3 linked regions of the Homo sapiens genome follow. The protein of the gene in region 1 binds, or shares a complex with, the protein of each later gene. Each region holds a gene or a part of one and is shown on either strand. Other genes may lie near its edges. The genes, in order: CPSF4, CPSF2 and CPSF3.

Evidence for each region.
Region 2: CPSF4 (region 1) and CPSF2 share a complex: the UniProt entries of both Homo sapiens proteins name them as parts of the cleavage and polyadenylation specificity factor (CPSF) complex.
Region 3: CPSF4 (region 1) and CPSF3 share a complex: the UniProt entries of both Homo sapiens proteins name them as parts of the cleavage and polyadenylation specificity factor (CPSF) complex.

The regions. Positions count from the first base shown.
Region 1 is NC_000007.14:99,441,794-99,448,953, reverse strand, and holds part of CPSF4 (cleavage and polyadenylation specificity factor subunit 4), read right to left. Parts: intron 6,620-7,160; exon of another isoform or gene 6,580-6,619; intron 6,258-6,579; exon of another isoform or gene 5,445-6,257; intron 4,166-5,444; coding exon 4,115-4,165; intron 834-4,114; coding exon 681-833; intron 1-680. UniProt on the Homo sapiens protein: Component of the cleavage and polyadenylation specificity factor (CPSF) complex that play a key role in pre-mRNA 3'-end formation, recognizing the AAUAAA signal sequence and interacting with poly(A) polymerase and other factors to bring about cleavage and poly(A) addition.
Region 2 is NC_000014.9:92,117,622-92,124,968, forward strand, and holds the start of CPSF2 (cleavage and polyadenylation specificity factor subunit 2), read left to right. Parts: upstream 1-4,347; 5' UTR 4,348-4,507; exon of another isoform or gene 4,508-4,730; intron 4,731-7,347. Other genes in the region: NDUFB1 (NADH dehydrogenase [ubiquinone] 1 beta subcomplex subunit 1), read right to left, coding at 1-16. UniProt on the Homo sapiens protein: Component of the cleavage and polyadenylation specificity factor (CPSF) complex that play a key role in pre-mRNA 3'-end formation, recognizing the AAUAAA signal sequence and interacting with poly(A) polymerase and other factors to bring about cleavage and poly(A) addition.
Region 3 is NC_000002.12:9,440,622-9,447,781, forward strand, and holds part of CPSF3 (cleavage and polyadenylation specificity factor subunit 3), read left to right. Parts: coding exon 1-45; intron 46-1,196; coding exon 1,197-1,355; intron 1,356-2,893; coding exon 2,894-3,040; intron 3,041-7,160. UniProt on the Homo sapiens protein: Component of the cleavage and polyadenylation specificity factor (CPSF) complex that plays a key role in pre-mRNA 3'-end formation, recognizing the AAUAAA signal sequence and interacting with poly(A) polymerase and other factors to bring about cleavage and poly(A) addition.

The sequences.
Region 1 (7,160 bases):
ACGCAGGCCACTCAGGACAGCTGAGGCCACGCATTCTCTAAGCAGGGCTCAAGGCAAGTTTGTTGCTACCAGAAGACACATCTGAGGCTGTTATTTTGAAGGGCTATTTAGGATGGCTGAGATGTCACCAGGATCATGGCTCCTGGAGAGAAGGAACCAGCTCGGGCCTGAGAGGCAATGCCCACGCTGGAGGGAGAAGTGGGTTTCAGGGAGAAGGTGGACGTGGACAGAAACCAACCACGGACATAATGCAGCCAGCTGCACAACTCGCTGCTTCCGGGTCACCCTCGTTAGCCTCAAATCCGAGTGATTGAAAGAGCTCCAAACACTGAAGCACTCCAAAGTGATGCGCGGGGCCAGGCGTGGTGGCTCACGCCTGTAATCCCAGCACTTTGGGAGGCTGAGGCAGGCAGATCACTCGAGCCCAGGAGTTCAAGACCAGTATGTGAAACATAGCGAGACCCTATGTCTTTAAAAAAAAAAAAAAAAAAAAAGAGATGAGCAGAAAATAGCCACACTGTCCCCTAAAAGCTGGCTGAGGCTGGCAGGTTCTGCCAGAGTTCTCCTCTGAGAATAGAAAGATGGGAAAAGCAGGCAGAGACAGTGTGGGCACTGAGCAGCCAGCGGACCCCTCTGCACCCTGGTTCTCAGCAGAGCCTCCAGGGCTCCAGGCGCCTTACCGAACTTGGAGTAGAAGTAGCACTCGGGCATCTTGGTCATGTCATACTCATGCAGGAACTCACACTGGTCCCCTTTCTTGCATAGGCCACGCAGCCAGTGTTTGCACACAACTGTCTTCTCACCACTGATGTGGCGAAACGGACACATGCCCCCTGCCGGCAAGATAGGGACAGGGTGTCAGCAGAGAGGCCACCCTGAGCCTGGGGGACACGGCCTGAAGAAGCTGAGGTACCTTCACTTCCTAACTCCTGGAGCCACCTGAAGGCATCACGTCCTGGAAAGGGGCAGAGGTCCCCCTCACAGAAGGCAACATGATTTGAGGTACTACACTGACAGACATTTTACATTTTAATAGTTACTCATGGCCGGGCGCAGTGGATCACGCTGGTAATCCCAGCACTTTGGAAGGCCGAGGTGGGCGGATCACAAGGTCAGGAGATCGAGACCATCCTGGCTGGCACGGAGACCATCCTGGCTGTCACGGTGAAATCCTGTCTCTTCTAAAAATACAAAAAATTAGCCGCGCATGGTGGCTGGCGCCTATAGTCCCAGCTACTCGGGAGGCTGAGGCAGGACAACAGCGTGAACCCGGGAGGCGGAGCTTGCAGTGAGCAGAGATCGCGCCACTGCACACCAGCCTGGGCAACAGAGCAAGACACCTTTTCAAAAAAAAAAAAAAAAAAGTTACTCATGATCTCACAGATATTACTGTAAGATGGAGGAATTAAAAGGGGGGAGGTGCTGGGAGGCTGAGGTGGGTAGATCACGAGGTCAGGAGTTCGAGACCAGCCTGGCTGACATGGTGAAACCCCATCTCTACTAAAAGTACAAAAAAAATTAGCCCGGCTTGCGGGTGGGTGCCTGTAATCCCAGCTACTTGGGAGGCTGAGGCTGGAGAATCGCTTGAACCCAGGAGGCGGAGGTTGCAGTGACCGGAGATCACGCCATTGCACTCCAGCCTGGATGACAAGAACAAAACTCTGTCTCAAAAAAAAAAAAAAGAAAAAAAAAAAGAAAGGAACTTGGCCGGGTGTAGGAGCTCAAATCTATGATCCTAGCACTTTGGAAGGCCAAGACAGGAGAATCACTTGAGCCAAGAAGTTCGAGATCAGCCTGAGATCTTGTCTTCACTACATAAATAAATAAGTAAGTAAGTAAGTAAGCCAGCCAAGCAAGCTTGGGGACCAGGCACAGTGGCTCACACCTGCAATCGCAGTAGTTTGGGAGGCCAAGGCAGGTGCATCACCTGAGGTCAGGAGTTCGAGACCAGCCTGGCCAACATAATGAAACCCTGTCTCTACTAAAAATACAAAAAATTAGCTGGGCGTGGTGGTGTGCACCTGTAATCCCAGCTACTCAGGAGGCTGAGGCAGGAGAATTGCTTGAACCCAGGAGGCAGAAGTTGCAGTGAACCAAGATGACACCACTGCACTCCAGCCTGGGCAACAAGAGCAAAACTCCGTTAAAAAAAAAAAAAAAAAAAAAAAAAAAAAAAAAAAAAGCTGGGTATGGTGGTGTACACCTGTAGTCCTGGCTACTGAGGAGGCTGAGGTGGGAGGATCACTTGGGCCCAGGAGGTCAAGCTTGCAGTCAGCTATGACTGTGCCACTGCACTCCAGCCTGGGTGACAGAGTAAGATGCTGCCTCTTTTTTAAAAAAAAAAAAAAAGGAAAGACCAATTTCAGAATTGAGGAAATGTGATGTATACACATGGAGGGACGTGTCCCTTCTGGGACAGGACCTGATGGGACAGAGCCAGCCTCTGGGGATGTGTGAGACTTCTAACGGGTGGCCTGGCAAGACCACCATGGAGGTCCGACCAGAATGAGGCCGCTGTACACTTCTGCTGTCCAATATGGCAGCTGCTAGCCCCATGTGACTACTGAGCACTTGAAATATGACTAGTGTGTCTGAGAATTTTGTTTTAAATGTGATTTGATTTTACTTAAATTTGAACTGCCACATGTGACTAGTGGCTACTGTATTAGTCAACAGAGAGACAGAATGCCCTGTGTTAGGGATGGCTGTGCTAACAGAAGGTGGCTGGTCAGAAGGGCAGAATTACTGAGCAAAGACATGGGAATGAGACCAGAAACTCAGTGGAGGTAATGACGTTCTGACTGGACAGTGTGAAGGTGGCCTGGCTGATCTGCCAGAAAGTCTCCTACCTCAGTGGTAAATGACTACGTTATAGAAGCAAAACTCACCAAAACCATTCATTAAAACCAGCCCTTTGCTCTGATTCTCTGCTCTCTTTTTCAAGCTTCTGATTAATATTTAAGTCTCCTAAATAAATTTTCCTACAGGGAGAAAAATGCCCAGACCATGGAAAGTTTAGGTTGTACCTAGTGATACTTCTTTCTTTCTTTTTTTTTTGTTTTGTTTTGTTAAGACAGAGTCTCACTCTGTTACCTAGGCTGGAGTGCAGTGGTGCGATCTTGGCTCACTACAACCTCTGCCTAACAGGTTCAAGTGATTCTCCTGCCTCAGCCTCCCCAGTAGCTGGGATTACAGACGGGCGTCACCATGCCCAGCTAATTTTTGAATTTTTAGTAGAGACGATGTTTCACCATGTTGGCCAGGCTGGTCTCAAACTCCTGACCTCAGGTGATCCATCCACCTCGGCCTCCCAAAGTGCTGGGATTACAGGCGTAAGCCACCACGCCTGACCCCTAGTGATACTTCTGATGGATTAGCCCGGCCCACATACAATTATTAAAAGAGCACAGCCAGAGGGGTAACAAGATGGCGACCAAGACAGTGGAGCTCCATAAGCTGAAGCTTGCTGAACTAAAGTAAGAATGAATGTCTTGCTCGTGGTTTGGAGACGAGCAAATAAAGCAAGATTTTTTTTTTTTTTGAGATAGAGTCTTGCTCTGTTGCCAGGCTGGAGTGCAATGGCACGATCTCGGCTCACTGCAACCTCTGACTCCCTGGTTCAAGGGATTCTCGCACCTCAGTAGTTTTGTGTAGTCTGTGTTGAGGGCTGGTTATCGAGAACAAGACCCCGCAAGATGGGTTATCATGGGGTGTTTCGATGGGAGGCCACAGAAAACCATGAGCCAGTGGAAACTATGGAATGAGAAAGACCTGGGTTCAGACACTGGGCTCTGCCGCTTATTAACTCTGTGACATTGAGAAAGTTCCTGAGTGTCTCAATGCTGGGGGCTTCTCTCCATGTCACAGGTCAGCTTGTGGCCACGGGGAATGCGAAGTGATAAGGCAGCCTTAGAGCCAGGTTCAGTCCTGCGTTTAGGTTTCAGGTGGAACACCCCATCAGGGTCCTAGCCTGTCCAAACCAGTTTTATCTACAGAGATCGTTAGTCTGTAGAAAGCAATGTAAGCCAGAGACCTGGCGGCCTCCAAGTCTGCCGGGGAGAAGGAGGTGGGAGGGCGCCTCCGGAGGCACATCAGGGAGCCCGGAGTTTCTTACCTTTGCCGCAGGCAGCTTTCAAAAAGAATTCACAGACAGCAGCGCCCGACTCTGTAGAAAGGAGAGAAAAGGAGAGGAATCAAAGAGGTGCAATTTGCTATTGACAATGTCTGAAGACAGTGGGAGGGAACCCTTCTGACCTCTGACCCACCAAGGGTTCAGGGTACAGGAAATAAAGTAGCAAAAATTTGCAAAGCCCAACCAAGCAAGGAAGAAGCTGCTTAAGTTAGTCACGCCCTACAAAATGAGACACATACATTGAGAACAGTCATTACCCAGTGCTTTGAGAGCCTCCTGTATATAAGATCCTTTCAAGGAGTTAAGAGTGGGTGGGGAAAGGAAGGCTGGAGTACGAGATCACAGAAATAATTTTTTTTTTTTTGAGATGGGGTTTCGCTCTAGTTGCCTGGGCTGGAGTGCAATGACGCGATCTTGGCTCACTGCAATCTCTGCCTCCCAGGTTCAAGCAATTCTCTTGCCTCAGCCTCCCAAGTAGCTGGGATTACAGGTGCCTGCCACCACGCTTGGCTAATTTTTGTATTTTTAGTAGAGACGGGGTTTCACCATGTTGGCCAGGCTGGTCTCGAACTCTTGACTTCAGGTGATCCACCCACCTCGGCCTCCCAAAGTGCTGGGATTACAGGCGTTGAGCCAAAGTGCCTGACACACAGGAATAAATTAACGGCCCCTAGCTCACACCTTCCTCCAGGAGGGCGAATTCACAGATACCTTAACATGAGGCAGAGGGAAGGAATGATCTCACAGACGTACAGACAATCAGGGCCTCTGAGGAGGGTCAGGCTTCAAGGAAGAGGCAGTGCCTCTGAGATGCTAGTCCAGGGGGAAGCACATTAAGTGCAGAAACAGAGGACTGCTTTTAATATGCAACATCCGTACACAATTTTTTTTTTCTATTTTTTTGAGACAGAGTCTCGCTCTGTCGCCCAGGCTAGAGTGTGGTGGTGCGATCTTGGCTCACCGTAACCTCTGCCTCCTTGGTTCAAGAGATTCTCCTGCCTCAGCTTCCTGAGTAGCTGGAATTATAGGTGTACCATCATGCCTGCCCAATTTTTTTGTATTTTTAGTAGAGATAGGGTTTTGCCATGTTGGCCAGGCTGGTCCCAAACTACTGGCTTCAAGTGATCCACCTACCTTGGCCTCCCAAAGTGCTGGGATTATAGACGTGAGCCACCACACCTGGCCCACATACAATTATTACAGGCTGGTCTCGAACTCCTGACCTCGTGATCCGCCTGCCTTGGCTTCCCAAAGTGCTAGGATTGAGCCACCGCACCCCACCCCACATACAATTATTAAAAGAGCACACCCGGAGGGGTAACAAGATGGTAACTGAGATGGTGGAGCTCCATAAGCTGAAGCTTGCTAAACTAAAGCAAGAATGTCTTCTTGTGGTTTGGAGACCAAGGGAATAAAGCAAGATCTTATCCACAGACTCCAGGCATATCTTGAAGAACATGCTGAAGAGGAGGCAAATGAAGATGTACTAGGAGATGAAACAGAAGAAGAAAAAAACCCCTTGTCAAATAGGAAGAACCCCCTGAAAAAAACTGTTGATGTGGCAGCAGAGAAGAAAGTGGTGAAAATTACATCTGAAATACCACAGGCTGAGAGAATGCAGAAGAGGGCCGAACAATTCAGTGTACCTGTGAGCTTGGAGAGTAAGAAAGCTGCTCAGGCAGCTAGGTTTGGGATTTCTTCAGTTCCAACAAAAGTCTGTCATCTGAACACACCTATGGTTAACTTGGATAAGCCGAAGGAAAGAGCTCAAAGATTTGGTTTGAATGTCTCTTCAATTTCCAGAAAGTCTGAAGATGATAAGAAACTGAAAAAGAGGAAGGAGCGATTTGGGATTGTCACAAGTTCAGCTGGAACTGGAACCACAGAGGATACAGAGGCAAAGAAGAGGAAAAGAGCAGAGCGCTTTGGCATTGCCTGATGAAAGGTTCTTGATACTTTCTGTTCTCCAGTGTTTTCCACTTCTCTCATTCTTCTTGGTCACATATATACTAAATGCAGTCTTGCCTTGCAATGAGGGAGCAGGTACCCCAGGTAAAACTGTGAACTGCCGCGGCAGTTTGACTTATTGCTGTTTCAGCTTTAAGGTTGTTGTGTTTTTGTTTTTGATTATATTGCTTGTTTTTTGTTTTTTTTTTTTTTTTTTTTGAGACGGAGTCTCGCTGTTGCCCAGGCTGGAGTGCAGTGGTGTGATCTCGGCTCACTGCAGGCTCTGCCCCACCGGGGTTCACACCATTCTCCTGCCTCAGCCTCCCGAGTAGCTGGGACTACAGGCACCCGCCACCTTGCCCAGCTAATTTTTTGTATTTTTAGTAGAGACGGGGTTTCACCGTGTTAGCCAGGATGGTCTCGATCTCCTGACCTCGTGATCCGCCCGCCTCGGCCTCCCAAAGTGCTGGGATTACAGGTGTGAGCCACAACGCCCGGCCGATTATGTTGCTTGTTAATAAAAAAGAAAAGAAAAGAAAAAAAAAGCACAGCCTTTCATTCCCACAGTCGGAGTGTGCTGGAATTCAGTGGGCTCCAGGGACCAGCTGTTCTGATGAGTCCAGGAATTCACCAGCCCCAGCTGCCAGACTAAACTGACCTTGGCATCAGAAACAGTTTCCTCTACAAGTAACCATTTTAGAATTGCTGAAAAACCAATGACAGCATCTCTGAAGCCCACTTAACATGCCTCCCCTTGCTAAATCACAAAAGATTCCTTGGCTTCTTGGAAGCAAGCAGATTTTGCTAGGACACAGCTGAGGTTATAGAACTTATGGCTGTCACAGGGAGGTCACTCCATTTGCATCTCAAAAAGTCTGAAAGTGGCCAGGTGCGGTGACTCACGTCTGTAATCCTAGCACTTTGGGAGGCTGAGGCGGGTGGATCACTTGACATCAGGAGTTCAAGACCAGCCTGGCCAATATGGTGAAACCCCATCTCTACTAAAAATGCAAAAATTAGTCAGACATGGTGGCACGTGCCTGTAATCCCAGCTACCTGGGAGGCTGAGGCAGGAGAATCA
Region 2 (7,347 bases), on another chromosome or scaffold:
GAAGTAAGTTCACCATGATAGCTAAAAGAAAAAAAAATTATCAGAAATACAACTGCTTTGTTTTTTTTTTGAAATAGCTTTTAAATTGCATCTGGGCCAGGTGCGGTGGTTCATGCCTGTAATCCTAGCACTTTGGGATGCTGAGGTGGGCAGATCACTTGAGATTAGGAGTTCGAGACCAGCCTGGCCAACATGGCAAAACCCCATTTCTACTAAAAGCACAAAAATTAGCCGGGTGTGGTGGTGCGCGTCTGTTATCCCAGCTACTGGAGAGGCTGAGGCAGGAGAATTGCTTGAACCCAGGAGGCGGAGGTTGCAGTGAGCCAAGATCGTGCCACTGTACTTCAGCCTGGGCGACAGAGCAAGACTCCATCTCAATAAAATAAATAAATTGCATCTGAAACAAGAAGATGATAGACATAGATGTAATAGATGTTAAAAGCCTAATACGCCTCTTTGTTTGCCTGGCATCAGAATGTAGTATAATACTTTAAAATCTAATTGATGAAGATTACATACGGGACAATGATTAATATAAAATTACACCACACTGGGTCTATTTATTACATTTTACTACTAGCTTCAATAGTGATGTGATACGATACAGAGCAGAGAAACAGAGATGGTATGTAAAAAAATTCTACCTGCAACAGCTGATTGTTTGCACCCTCCTCATGTTGTTTTGGAACTTTTTTTTGTAAAAGAGACAAGGTCTTGCTATGTTGCCCAGGCTGGAGGGCAGTGGCTATTCACAGGCACTACAGCTCTCAACTCCCGGGCTCAAGCATTCCTCCTGCCTCAGCCTCCCAAGTAGCTGGGACTACAGGCATACACCACTGCACCTGGCTCTCATTTAGGACTTTTACTTGTGTAAAACATATTTAGAACCTCTCACAATGCAAAAACAAATTTAATACAATTTTGCCAGAAATGGAATTCTTTAGGTAAAGCTGTAATTACTGAAAACTAAATTTAGAAAGGAAATTAAAAGATATGAGAGAAAAAAGAAAACTATATTCAATAATGTCACTGTAGATATGAATATAAATTACTCTAAAAAAGGTAAAGGGGCCGGGTGTAGTGGCTCACGCCTGTAATCCCAGCACTTTGGGAGGCTGAGGCGGGTGGACGACAACAAGGTCAGGAGTTCGAGACCAGCCTGGCCAACATGGTGAAACTCCATCTCTACTAAAAATACAAAAATTAGGTGGGCGTAGTGGCACATGCCTGTAGTCCCAGTTACTCAGGAGGCTGAGGCAGGAGAATTGCTTGAACTCGGGAGGCAGAGGTTGCAGTGAGCTGAGATGACGCCACTACACTCCAGCCTGGGGGATACAGCGAGTCTCTGTCTCAGAAAAAAAAGAAAGAAAAAAAAAGGCAAAGGGAGAAGAAAATTTACTTTTATAGAGTGACTACTAGGTGGCTCATGCCTGTAACCACAGCACTTTGGGAGACTAAGGCGGATGGATCGCTTGAGCCTAGGAGCTTGAGACTAGCCTGGTTAACATGGCAAAACCCTGTCTCTACAAAAAATCAAAAAATTAGCTGGGTGTGGTAGTATATGCCTGTAGTCCCAGCTACTTCGGAGGCTGAGGTGGGAGGATTGCTTGAGCCCAAGAGACGGAGGTTGCAATGACCTGAGATCACACCACTGTACTCTAGCCTGGACGACAGAGCGTGATGCTGTCTCAAAAAAAAAAAAAAGACTACTAGGTTACTAGGTACCAGAGCCATCATCTATTTCTATACGTAATGTGAAATAACTATTATTTACATTTTACAGATAAGAAAACAGCTTAATCCAAATAGCTATTAAGTACAGAGCTGGAGTTCAAATTCAGCTTCACTCTACAGCTCTGGCTGCTATTATAGCCCATGCCTAAGAAACCCCTTCCTGAATTGATGTTTATGGTACTTAAAAGCTTTTAAATGCTGAGTTTCCAGAAGGTAGATGAGGAGGAATAGAACTATAGGTTTTTCCTTATCCGAAATGCTTGGGACCCGAAGTGTTTTCGATTTTTTGATTTTGAAATATTTGCATGCACATAATGAGCTATCTTGGGGATAGGACCGAATTAAAACATAAAATTCATTTGTGTTTTATATATACCTTATACACATAGCCTGAAGGTAATCTTATATGAAACTTTTTTTTTTTTTTAAATAGTCTCGCTCTGTCACCTAGGATGGAGTGCAGTGGAGTTATAATAGTCCACTGCAGTCTTGAACTCCTGAGCTCAAGTGATCTTCCCACCTCAATCTTCTGAGAAGCTGGAGCTACGGGTGCTAATTTAAAAAAATTCTTTAAACATTTTTTTTTGTAGAGACAAGATCTTGCTATGTTGCCCAGGCTGGTCTCAAACTTGTGGCCCCAAGTTTCACATATGGGGGCATTTTGGATTTCCAACATTCTGATCAGGGATACTGAACCTGTAATAGACATCATGTGGAAAATAAATTGCACAATTCAATAAAAACATAGTTGGATTGCCAATTTTCTGTAAAAATTCGTGCATACAGATGAATTCAAAATACACCTGTGTGCGTTTGGACTAAACTAATAAATCATGTACAATGACTAAGAAGACATATGACAACATCCTAGAAAGACAATACATTATTGCCAACAAAAGTGCTTAGCACTAAGCTGTGCTAGGACTATGTAGACTGAATTTCTGCCTCTCCTCTTACACTGGCATGCTTATACAATTCATACTTTTTTCTTTCCTTTTTTTTTTTTTATTTTGAGACGAAGTTTCGCTCTTGTTGCCTAGGCCGGAGTGCAATGGCGCAATCTTGGCTCACAGCAACCTCTGCCTCTCGGATTCAAGGGATTCTCCTACCTCAGCCTCCCAAGTAGCTGGGATTACAGGTATGCGCCACCATGCCCAGCTAATTTTGTATTTTTGGTAGAGACGAGGTTTCTCCATGTTGGTCAGGCTGGTCTTGAATTCCCAACCTCAGGTGGTCCGCCCGCCTAGGCCTCCCAAAGTGCTGGGATTACAGGCGTGAGCCACCGCGCCCGGCCGTTCAAGTGATTTTCTTGCCTCAGCCTTCCGAGTAGCTGGGACTATAGGCAGGTGCCACCACGCCCGGCTAATTTTTGTATTTTTAAGTAGAGATGGGGTTTCACTGTTGGCCGGGCTGGTCTCAAACTCCTGACCTCTTGATCCGGCCACCTCGGCCTTCCAAAGTGTTGGGATTACAGGCGTGAGCCACTAAGCCTGGCCATACTTTTGTCTTTTAAAAGGCAAGGTGGGCCAGGTGCAGTGGCTCACGCCTGTAATCCCAGCACTTTGGGATGCTGAGGCGGGTGGATCACGAGATCAGGAGTTCGAGACCAGCCTGGCCAACATAGTGAAACCCTCGTCTCTACTAAATATACAAAAAATTAGCCGGGTGTGGTGGCGGGCGCCTGTAATCCCAGCTACTTGGGCTGCTGAGACGGGAGAATCGCTTGAACCCGGGAGGCGGAGGTTGGAGTGAGCCGAGATTGCACCATTGCACTCCAGCCTGGGTGACAAGAGTGAATCTCTGTCTCAAAAATAAAAAAGCAAAGTAAAAGGGTAAGCACATCATTTAGGCGCAACGGTGTCGGCTCAAGAGGATTTGCGATTTGGAAGAGAGCGAGGTTAGCGAGAAGACAGAAGGCTGGAACTTGGACGAATGTAAGCTGCTCGCGGAGGGGAGGCAGCGTCTTCCCTGCTTCAGGCCAGGCGTGGGATCCGGGCCGGTCTTCTCTCCAGTCCGGTTAGCGGGCGGTCACTGGGTCACATCTCTACGGACGTTTTCCTGTTATGACAGCCTCAGAAAACCCTTTCCAAAAGCTCCGGCCCGGAAATCCCATCCTCCACCCGAAGAAAACCCCATTTTCCTTTCCCGTCACCTTCGTTCGGAAGCCCCGGGGAAGCCCAGACCACCCCTCCACACATGCACAGCACCGAGGGCTTGCCTAGAACCCTCCCCGCCACCGTCGCCGTGATCCTCGTCGCGGCGGCCCCCCGGGCTCCCCAAACCCACCTGCAGCCTCAGCGCCTACAGCGACCCCGAGACCAAGGGCAACAGGGAACTCAACCCGCGCCAGTGGAAGCTGCGACCTCGGGACCTGCCATTCGCCGCGCCCGCACGGAGCAGAGGGGTGACGCCAGCAAATCATACTACTTTTTCCTCCTCAGGGTTGACTCCTCTCATTTTTTTTTTTTTTAGCTTCCAAACATTACCAATAATTTCTGAATAAAATTTCGCTCCAGACAGACGAGGCGTGCAGGCGTGACCGCCGTCGCCTTCCGACAGCACCGTGCCCACCCCCCGGAGATGGTCTCGCCCTGGTTCCTCCTCGTCTCCGCCGCTAGTCTCCAGCTCCAAAATGGCGGCTGCCACTGTGGGGCTTCTGCCGGCCGGTAGTCCCTGGCGCTGCTGACCCAGCATCGGCTTTTCTACGTCTTGAACCTGGATTCGCCTAGGGGTTGGGAAGGGCTGTGGACGGCGTTGGGGGAGGCCTGACGAGGCAAGTGAGGGCGGGAGAAAGGAGCGAGCCTCGGGCTGGGGAAGGCGGCGTCATTGGCCCTCCGGGAGCACGGGGCCCCGACTCCGACCCGGTCTCCCCCGAGGACTCGCCCCCGCCGCTTCGGCTGCGACTGTCCCGGTCGTTCCCGGCAGAAGTGGTCAGCGAGGGAAAGAGAAGTGACTTCTCCATGGGTTTCAAGCTCCCAGCTGTTTTGCGGCAGCCCGTACGGTTCCCTCCCGGGATCTTCTTCCCTCCTTTCTGCTTCCCTCTGCTTCCCCTTTCATCTCTTGGCGCTGGAAGAGTTAAACCGACGCCAGCTTTAGCTCCTTGGCTTCGTGGCTACGGCGTTCTTAGCCTCCCCTGCTCGGGCTCTTCCCGTCGTTTTGGGTTGAGAGACCACGAGGTTGCTAAGCTCTGGACACCGCTTAGGCGTCCTTTTAGTTCTTCGACTCCAGAGACCTTTCGGTTGTTTGTACCACACTGTACTAAAAGGGTCTTGGGCCTTCGCGCCCTCCCGCCATCGCCCTCCAGCGCTTCCACTATCACTGCGAAGTTCTAATTCTTTTTTGACTTCGTACTATTTTACGTGCTCTTTAGAAAAGAAGAGGTCAGATTGAACCCCGGCAAGTCTGGCTTCCTGTGACCAGGCGAACCTGAGCTATCATTTATACCCATCCCCTAATTTTTAATTTTACAACCCCTTTAACCCCTTTCTTTTTTCTTTCTTTTTTTTTTTTTTTAATAAAGACGGGGTTTCACTATGTTGCCCAGGCCGGTGTCGAACTCCTGGGCTCAAGAGATCCTCCCATTTTGGCCTGTGCTGGGATTCCAGGCGTGAGCCACCATGCCCGGCCTTGCAACCCCAGTATGAAACTGGGGCTCTCCCTCAACTGACCGAGAAGAGCCTTCCCCACTCAGTGAGCTCCAGGGCTAACCCAAACTCCTCTGTTTTCCCTTGGATTTTGCTTAGTTCACCTTAGTTGTCATCAACATGCACGGTAATTATTTTTTATTTTTGAGAAGGAATCTCGCTCTGTCGCCCAGGCTGGAGTGCAGTGGCACGATTCTCGGCTCACTGCAACCTCTGCCTCCCGGGTTCAAGTGATTCTCCTGCCTCAGACTCCCGAGTAGCTGGGACTACAGGCGCGCACCACCACGCCCACCTATTTTTGTAGCTTTAGTAGAGACAGGGTTTCACCTTGTTGGCCAGGATTATCCGCCTGCCTCGGCCTCCCAAAGTTCTGGGATTACAGGCGTGAGCCACCGCGCCTGGCCGATTTATTATTTGAGACCGGGTCTCGCTCTGTCCACCCAGGCTGGAGTGCAGTGGTGCCATCTCAGCTCACTGCAACTTCCGCCTCCTGGGCTCAAGTAATCCTCCCACCTCAGCCTCCCAAGTAGCTGGGGTCACCAGCGCAGCCACCGCGCCCGGCTACTTTTTTGTGTTTTTAGTAGAGAAGGGGTTTTGTCATATTGCCCAGGCTGGTCTGGAACTCCTGAGCTCAAGTGATCTGCCCTCCTCGGCCTCCCAAAGTGTTGAGATTAAAGGCGCAAGCCACTGCGCCCGGCAACATGCACGATTATTATTAAGAGGGCAAGTAACTGTGAGATATTTGCGATGAAGTAGTATCTGTCAAAACCAGTGCTCTGAAGGAATTTATGATATGATGAGGCTTCATTCCTTCTTGCAGTACCCATTTATGCTGCCTTGACCACTGAAGTTGGTATTGGATATACAAAGATGATCACTTTTACTCCTCTATACATTGAACATCCATTCAACAAATACTTTATGTGCCTCCTTTATAACAAAATAACTAACTTTGCCTAGGGCAACAAAAAGGCTTTATAAAGGAGTAAATATGTGAGCTGGGTCATATAGCATCAAAAGGAATTTGCTGAGCTCAAAAGGAGAAGGTAATTTCGGGATTCAGTACAGGAATACAGAGCTTTGAGAAGCTTTAGCATACTTAGGGAGAGTGGGATAATCAACCTGCCTGAGCATTTAGTGCACGAGTGATTGGTGAAGCAAGAGGTAGGTTAAGATCAGCTTGTGAAGGATCTTGGTTTCCAATAGGGAGTTTAGATTTTTTTCAGTAGTTACCAGGAATCCAGTGGATATTTTGTGCAAGGAGTGAGCAGGAGGATATTTGTTTTTTTAGGATGGTCTCTGACAGCTATATGGAGGATCAACTGGGAACAGAAAAACTAGATGAAAGGAAATGGGCAATCATTCAGGTAAGGCAATGAGGGCCTCCATGGAGGCAGGACATAAAGGAGGTCAGAGAGACACTAAGTAAATGTCAAATGGGATTCACCTGCTGACTGCTAAGTTAATGGTAAGAAGGTGACTTGAGTTTTTAGTCTGGGAGAGTAAATGGTTGGCAATACTATTAAAACTTAGTCTGAGACATGTACATAAACATAGGATGGTGCCAACCTGCACTTTAGGGGTGACAACATGATGCTCTATAGTGTAAAGCATTGGTTTTTATGGTCTGGAGTCTAGATCTGCACTGTTATGGTAGTCACTAGCCACATGTAGCTATTGAGCACTTCAGATGTCGTTAGTCTATTTGAAATGTGCTGTAAATATAAAATACACAGTGGATTTTGAAGATTTAATATGAAAATGTAAAATATTCAACATGATTACATGTTGAAATAATATTTTGGTTCTATTGGGTTAAATAAAATTCATTAAAATTCACCCGTTTCTTTTTCACTTTTCCATGTGGCCATGAAGAAATTAAAAAGTACATTTGTGGCACGCATTATATGTCTGTTGACAGAGCTGTTCTAGTCTAGACTAGATGTGGGAATTTGTAAGGAGGTGGAAC
Region 3 (7,160 bases), on another chromosome or scaffold:
AACATCAATAATCCCTTTGTTTTCAAACACATTAGTAACCTCAAGGTGAGTGCTTGTGGAAGAAAGACAAGGATGGATAAAACCAAATCAGTCATTAGTAGTAGGAGGTACGAGGCCGTGAGTGATGGCTCACAGCTGTAATTTAGCACTTTGGGAGTCTAAGGCAGGAGGATCACTAGAACTCAGGAGTTTGAGACCGGCCTGGGCAAGATAGTGAGACCCTGTCTCTATCAAAATAAAATAAAAATCGTAGGCAGTGCTTGTCAGTGACTCTGGCTGAATTCCTCTTGCTGGAGTCTTACCGCTTCTCAACAGGTGTCGTTTTTCTGCAGAAAATCAAAACTTCAGCAGCTGACATTCTTTTTCTGCTTCAACAGATTTTGCCACTTGCCCCAAGTAGCCATGTGTTCTCAGTATTTATAATACTCATCTCTTTTGCCGTAGGCATAAAAAGTTCTGAGGAGAAAAATATTTTGTATTATGTATTTAAGTTTCTCTTCTCACTCAAACCAAATCATCTTTTTGATTAGTGCTGCAAATTCTATATATGAAAATTTTTATATACTTTTCTGGAAGCATTCAATAAAATCTGATTTTATTTAATTTAAAAAATACTGTTTAACTCGATGCTTGAATCATAATAAAATAATTGATATCCGAAATAATTTAAAAGTGGACTTCCAGTTGTAAATAGGCTTTGTTCATAAAGTATTTATTTTAAGTTAACTGCTTAAGGATTGTAGACAAGTTCTCCCTAGAACAATGTTAAACCTTTTGATTTCCAGGCCAGCTCAAAACATGCATGGAGCATGCAAAGCTATTGTGAGTCTTTGGGAATATTTTTTCAGAGTTGTGTCTTGGGTAGATCAAGACCCATTTGACTCTTCCTTTTACTTTTCTGCCTGCCTGCTAGGCGCTGAAGATGGTCCTGATGGTTCTGATGGCCCTCTAGCTACCAACAGAAGGTTTTGAAGATCGGGGTGAACTTACCGCTTTTTATTACTTGGTTTTTCTACCATTCCTAGCCTAAACTGTTTAGGAATTTGGCAACTGAACTTAAAATGTTTACAGATCTTGTGAAGGCTCTTTCAGTGATGTGATTAATCTCTTAGCCTTTTGTTATTCTTTAAAAAGAAAGAATGCTTTGTCAGCTGCTGGTAGCTAACATACTTTTCCCATTCTGTTTTCTCTCTTAGAGCATGGATCATTTTGATGACATTGGTCCCAGTGTTGTAATGGCCTCCCCAGGCATGATGCAAAGTGGCTTATCCAGAGAATTATTTGAAAGCTGGTGTACTGATAAGAGGAATGGTGTCATTATAGCGGGATACTGTGTAGAAGGGACACTTGCCAAGGTCAGTTACAGTCATAGGCTGTTGTGTTATTCCTATTCAGAATCACGGAGGTGGCACGGTCCTCACAGGTTTTTGCACTGAAGTAGTTCTTCAAATAATACAAGTTTTGATTTTTAAAAATGAGGACGGGAATAGGTAGCTAGAGATGTGCGTAGGATGTAGAATTATGCAGACACTGAATGGCATAATGAGGTCCCAGGTGATTGATATACACATTAAAGTTTGAGAAATGCTCATCTGGTTGCAAGTAGAGAAGAATGGACAGGAACCTGTTTGAGACAAACACGTGAATACTCTCCGTCCTCTCATGAAGAAGAGGTTGACTAATACATATGATCTTAAAAAGCTGTAGAATGTGTTTGGGTTGACCACTTTCTACTATTATGAAACATTGATTTTCAGCTCTTAGGGATGTAGAAATTGTAGAAAATATATGCAGAACTTGGGAGGCAGTTTCTGAGCATCCAGGCATCACATTCTCATCCTCTATTTTATTTTTAAAAATATGATATGATTCTTTGATAATCTTTATTACTTTACCTTATTCTATAAAGTTCTTTAGTGACAATGTTGTATTTAAAATAGATTTCCAGGCTGGGTGCAGTGGCTCACACCTGTAATCCCAGTACTTTGGGAGGCCAAGGCGGGCGGATCACCTGAGGTCAGGAGTTCGAGACCAGCCTGGCCAACATGGCGAAACCCCGTCTCTACTAAAAATACAAAAAATTAGCTGGGCGTGGTGGCGTATGCCTGTAATCCCAGCTACTCGGGAGGCTGAGGCAGGGAGAATTGCTTGAAACTGGAGGCGGAGGTTGCAGTCAGCCGAGATTGGCGCCACTGCACTCCAATCTGGGTGACGGAGCAAGACTCCATCTCCAAAAAAAAAAGAAAAAAAAAATTTCCAGGCCTGGCACAGTGCCTCACATCTGTAATCCTAGCACTTCAGGAGGCCACAGCAGGTGGATCACTTGAGCTCAGGAGTTGGGGACCAGCTTGGGCAACATGGAGAAATCCCATCTCTACAAAAAATACAAAAATTAGCCAGGTGTGGTGGCACGTGCCTGTAGTCCTAGCTAGTTGGGGGACTGAGGCAGGAGGCTTGCTTGAACCCAGGAGGTCGAGGCTGCAGTGAGCTGAGATCGCACACTGCATTTCAGCCTGGGTGACAAAGTGAGACCCTATTTGAAAAAACAAAGATTTTCAGAATAGAAATATATCCACATATCTAGGAAATGACTTTGGAGAGCACAAGAATAGTTGGGAATACAGGTTTGTCTTTCTAAGCATAAGAGTTATGATTCTCACTGCCAGCACTCCAGATAGATGAGTTTTAGTTAATTTGTTTACTTTTCTCATTAAATGTTTGCTTGATTGAGAACATGAGTATTTGATATTTACTGAGTCAGTTATATTAGAATGATTTTGTGCGTAAGGTCCTAAATTTAACATGAATTTATGACTGCATGAAAAAAATGAAAATGTACCTTTACGATTATAACTGGGTAGTTTGTTTTGTTATTTTTCTTTATTTTCCACAGCACATCATGTCTGAACCTGAAGAAATCACTACTATGTCTGGACAGAAGTTACCACTGAAAATGTCTGTTGATTACATTTCTTTCTCAGCTCACACGGATTACCAGCAAACCAGTGAATTTATTCGTGCTTTGAAACCGCCTCATGTGGTTAGTCTATGAATTTCATTTATTGTATTAAAGGGAAAAAAAGTGCATACCCAGGAAACTGTGCAGCAGGCAGTTCACAAAGCAGGCATCATCACCTACTAATGCGACACCCCCTGAGCAGAGCCTTTCACATGCACTCGGATTTGGCCTTTACAACTCCCCTTTGATTTCAGCAAGCTGCCCCCTTTCTCCAGAACTGACTGACTCAGACCTACCAACCCCAATCCTAATGTTTTTCTGTTATTTTCTGCTGCCTCTCCAATAATTTAAGAGCCAGGCTTGGAGTATGACTGCTCATTTGGAATGCCAGCTCCATCTCTTACTTACTATGTAACCCTTGGCAAGTTACTTAACCTCTCTGTACCTCATTTGTAAATAGGAATAATAGCTCATAAGGTTATTGTAAGGATGAAGTGAAAGAACATATCTAAAGCACTTAATATGGTGCCTGGCACATAGTAAATGCTTAATATATATATTATATATATATATATATATTTTTTTTTTTTTTGAGGCGGAGTCTTGCTCTGTCACCCAGGCTGACTGCAACTCCGCCTCCCGGGTTCAAGCAGCTCTCTGCTTCAGCCTCCTGAGTAACTGGGATTACAGGTGCCCACCACCACACCCGGCTAATTTTTGTATTTTTAGTAGAGATGGGGTTTCACCGTCTTGGCCGGGCTGGTCTTGAACTCCTGACTTCATGATACACCCGCCTCGGCCTCCCAAAGTGCTGGGATTACAGGCGCGAGCCACTGCACCCGGCCGACTTACTTATATTTTTAAGTATCGTGTAACTTATTAAAAATAAGTTAGATATTTTGATGGAATTGGAAAGGAGGGGTAAGCTGAAAAAAGTGTGTATTTTTAATTAGAAGAACACTAATGAAGCATGTGTCCATAGAAAATAGATGACGTGCCCTTTCCAAATGTATTGGAAAGCAGGAGAAATGGCCTTTTGTTAGTTTTGTTTGTTTGCTTGTTGTTTGGGGTGTTTTTTGGTTTGTTTGTTTGTTTGTTTGTTTGGATGAAGTCTTGCTCTGTTGCCTAGGCTGGAGTGCAGTGGCGCCAATCTCAGCTCACTGCAGCTTCTGCCTCCTGGGTTAAAGCAATTCTCCTGCCTCAGCCTTCCGGGTAGCTGGGATTACAGGCACGTGCCACCACGCCCAGCTAATTTTTGTATTTGTAGTAGAGACAGGTTTTCACCATGTTGGCCAGGCTGTTCTCAAACTCCTGACCTCAGGTGATCTGCCCGCCTCGGCCTCCCAAAGTGCTAGGATTACAGGCATGAGCCACTGCACCTGGCCTTGCTTGTTGTTTTTTAAATACGTTTTACTGTGGTAAAATATCTAACATAAAATTTGCAGTTTTAACCATTTTTAAGTGTACAAACCAGTGGCATTAATTATATTCACAGTGTTGTACAACCATCACCACTGTCTATTTTCACAGCTTTTCATCACTCCAAGCAGAAACTCTGTACCGTTACACAGTAACTCCCCATTCCCTTCCGCCAACCCTGGTAATCTCAAATCTACTTTCTGTTTCTATGAATTTGACTATTCTAGGTATTTCATATAAGAGGAATCATAATGCCTATGATGTTTTCAAGGTTCATCATGTTGTGGCATGTATCAGCACTTCATGCCGAAGTCATGGTCCGTTATATGTAGACCACATGTTGTTTATCCATTCACCTGTGGGTGGACACTCGGGTTGTGTCACTTTACAGCAAATGTGAAGTGGTATCTCGTTGTGGTTTTTATTTTCATTTCTCTAATGACTAATGATGTTGAGCACCTTTTCATGCAGTCTTTTGTTCGTTTTTGAGTTTTTTCTAGCATGATAGGCCTCACAGGTATTTGCCACTGGCCCTTAATGAGCAGATTATTTGGTCAAGAAAAATCACTCTCCTGTCTATAGCATCACAGTGTGTAGGGTTTAGTCACAGAGTAGGCTCCTCCCAGGTGTTTCTTATTGTCTGTGTGCATGAACACTCCCCCAGATTTCCAAGCCAGGGAGGAAAAGCCGAATTGCTCTTTTGTGTGGTGTCACCACCTCATCCTCAGCCCCATTTCATCCTGTCACTCTCCTGGTTCTACTTCTGCTGACAGTTTAAGTTCCTGGGTTGAACTTCATGCTCATTTTCTTGTGATAACCAGCTCCAGCAAAAGTATAGCTGCAGGATAAAATTGCAATACTAGTAGTGTTGGTGGTAGTAATGAATACTAGCTAACATTGATTATTTACCATGTGCCGGACACTGTATATGTGTTTTATATGAACTGACTTGCTTAATCTTCATGACCGACAGCTGTTCTGCAGATGAGACAACTGAGGTGTGAAATCACTTGGTCAAGGTTACACAGCTTAAATAAGCAGCAGCACCAGGATTCTGTTCAGGCAGCCAGGCCCAGGCCCTTCCCCAGCAAGCAGTAAGCCCCTGCCACGTGCTGGTGCTGGCTATGCCCAGCCACAAGCCATCTACCACATGTGAGAGGCTAAGAACAATCTATCTTGGCCGGGCTGCAGTCCCAGCACTTTGGGAGGCCGATGTGGGTGGATCACTTGAGGCCAGGAGTTCGAGACCAGCCTGGCCAACATAGTGAAACCCCATCTCTACTAAAAGTATAAAAATTAGGCAGGGCACGGTGGCTCATGCCTGTAATCCCAGCATTTTGGGAGGCCAAGGCGAGCAGATCACGAGGTCAGGAGATGGAGACCATCCTGGCTAACACGGTGAAACCCCGTCTCTACTAAAAATACAAAAAAATTAGACGGGTGTGGTGGCAGGTGCCTGTAGTCCCAGCTACTCGGGAGGCCGAGGCAGGAGAATGGCGTGAACCTGGGAGGCGGAGCTTGCAGTGAGCCGAGATCACGCCACTAGACTCTAGCCTGGGCGACGGAGCGAGACTCGGTCTCAAAAAAAAAAAAAAAAAAAAGTATAAAAATTAGGTAGGCATGGTGGTTCACACCTGTATCCCAGCTACTTGGAGGCTGAGGCATGAGAATCCCTTGAACCCTCGAGGCAGAGGCTGCAGTGAGCCAAGATCACGACACTGCACTCCAGCCTGGGTGGCAGAGTAAGACTGTCTCAAAAAAAAAAGAACAATCTGTCTTGTAAGATAGAAGTTACAAAAGTGAATGGAAAGGGACTGGTAGCTAATGCTGTTGTTGTAAATACCCTCTAAAATATTCCATTTGGGGCTGAGCACAGTGGCTCATGCCTGTAATCGTACCACTCTGCAAGGCTGAGGTGGAAAGACTGCCCAGAAGTTTGAGACCAGCCTAGACAACATAGTGAGACCTTGTCTCTACAAGAATAAAATAAAACTAGCCAAGCATGGTGGCTCATGCCTGTAGTCCCAGCTACCTGGGTGGCTAAGGTGGGAGGATTGTATAAGCCTGGGAGATTGAGGCCACGGTGAGCCAAGATTATGCCACTGCACTCCAACCTGGGCAACAGAGCAAGACTCTCTTTAAATAAAGAAATATATAAAGTAATAAAATGTTCCATTTGGTTCTGAAATATTTTATTAGGATAGGTACAGTGGCTCACGCCTATAATCCTAGCATTTTGGGAGGCCAAGATGGGCAGATCACTTGAGCCCAGGAGTTCAAGACCACCTTGGGCAATATGTGAGACCGTGTCTCTACAAAAAATACAAATATTAGCCGGGCATGGTGGCGTGTGCCTGTAGTCCCAGCTACGTGGGAGGCTGAGGCAGGAGGATTGCTTGATCCCTGGAGGTTGAGGCTGCAGTGAGCCATGATCACATCACTGGACTCCAGCCTGCGCAACAGAGTGAGACCCTGTCTCCAAAAATATATCAATATATGAGGTAGGCCAGGCACAGTGGCTCAAGCCTGTAATCCCAGCACTTTGGGAGGCCAAGGTGGGTGTCAAGAGTTCGAGACCAGCCTGACCAACATGGTAAAACCCCGTCTCTACTAAAAATACAAAAAATTAGCCAGGCATAGTGGCGTGTACCTATAGTGCCAGCTACTCGGGAGGCTCAGGCAGGAGAATCGCTTGAACTCAGGAGGTAGAGGCTGCAGTGAGCTGAGATCACACCACTGCTACCCTCCAGCCTGGGCGACAGAGCAAGACTCCATCTCACAA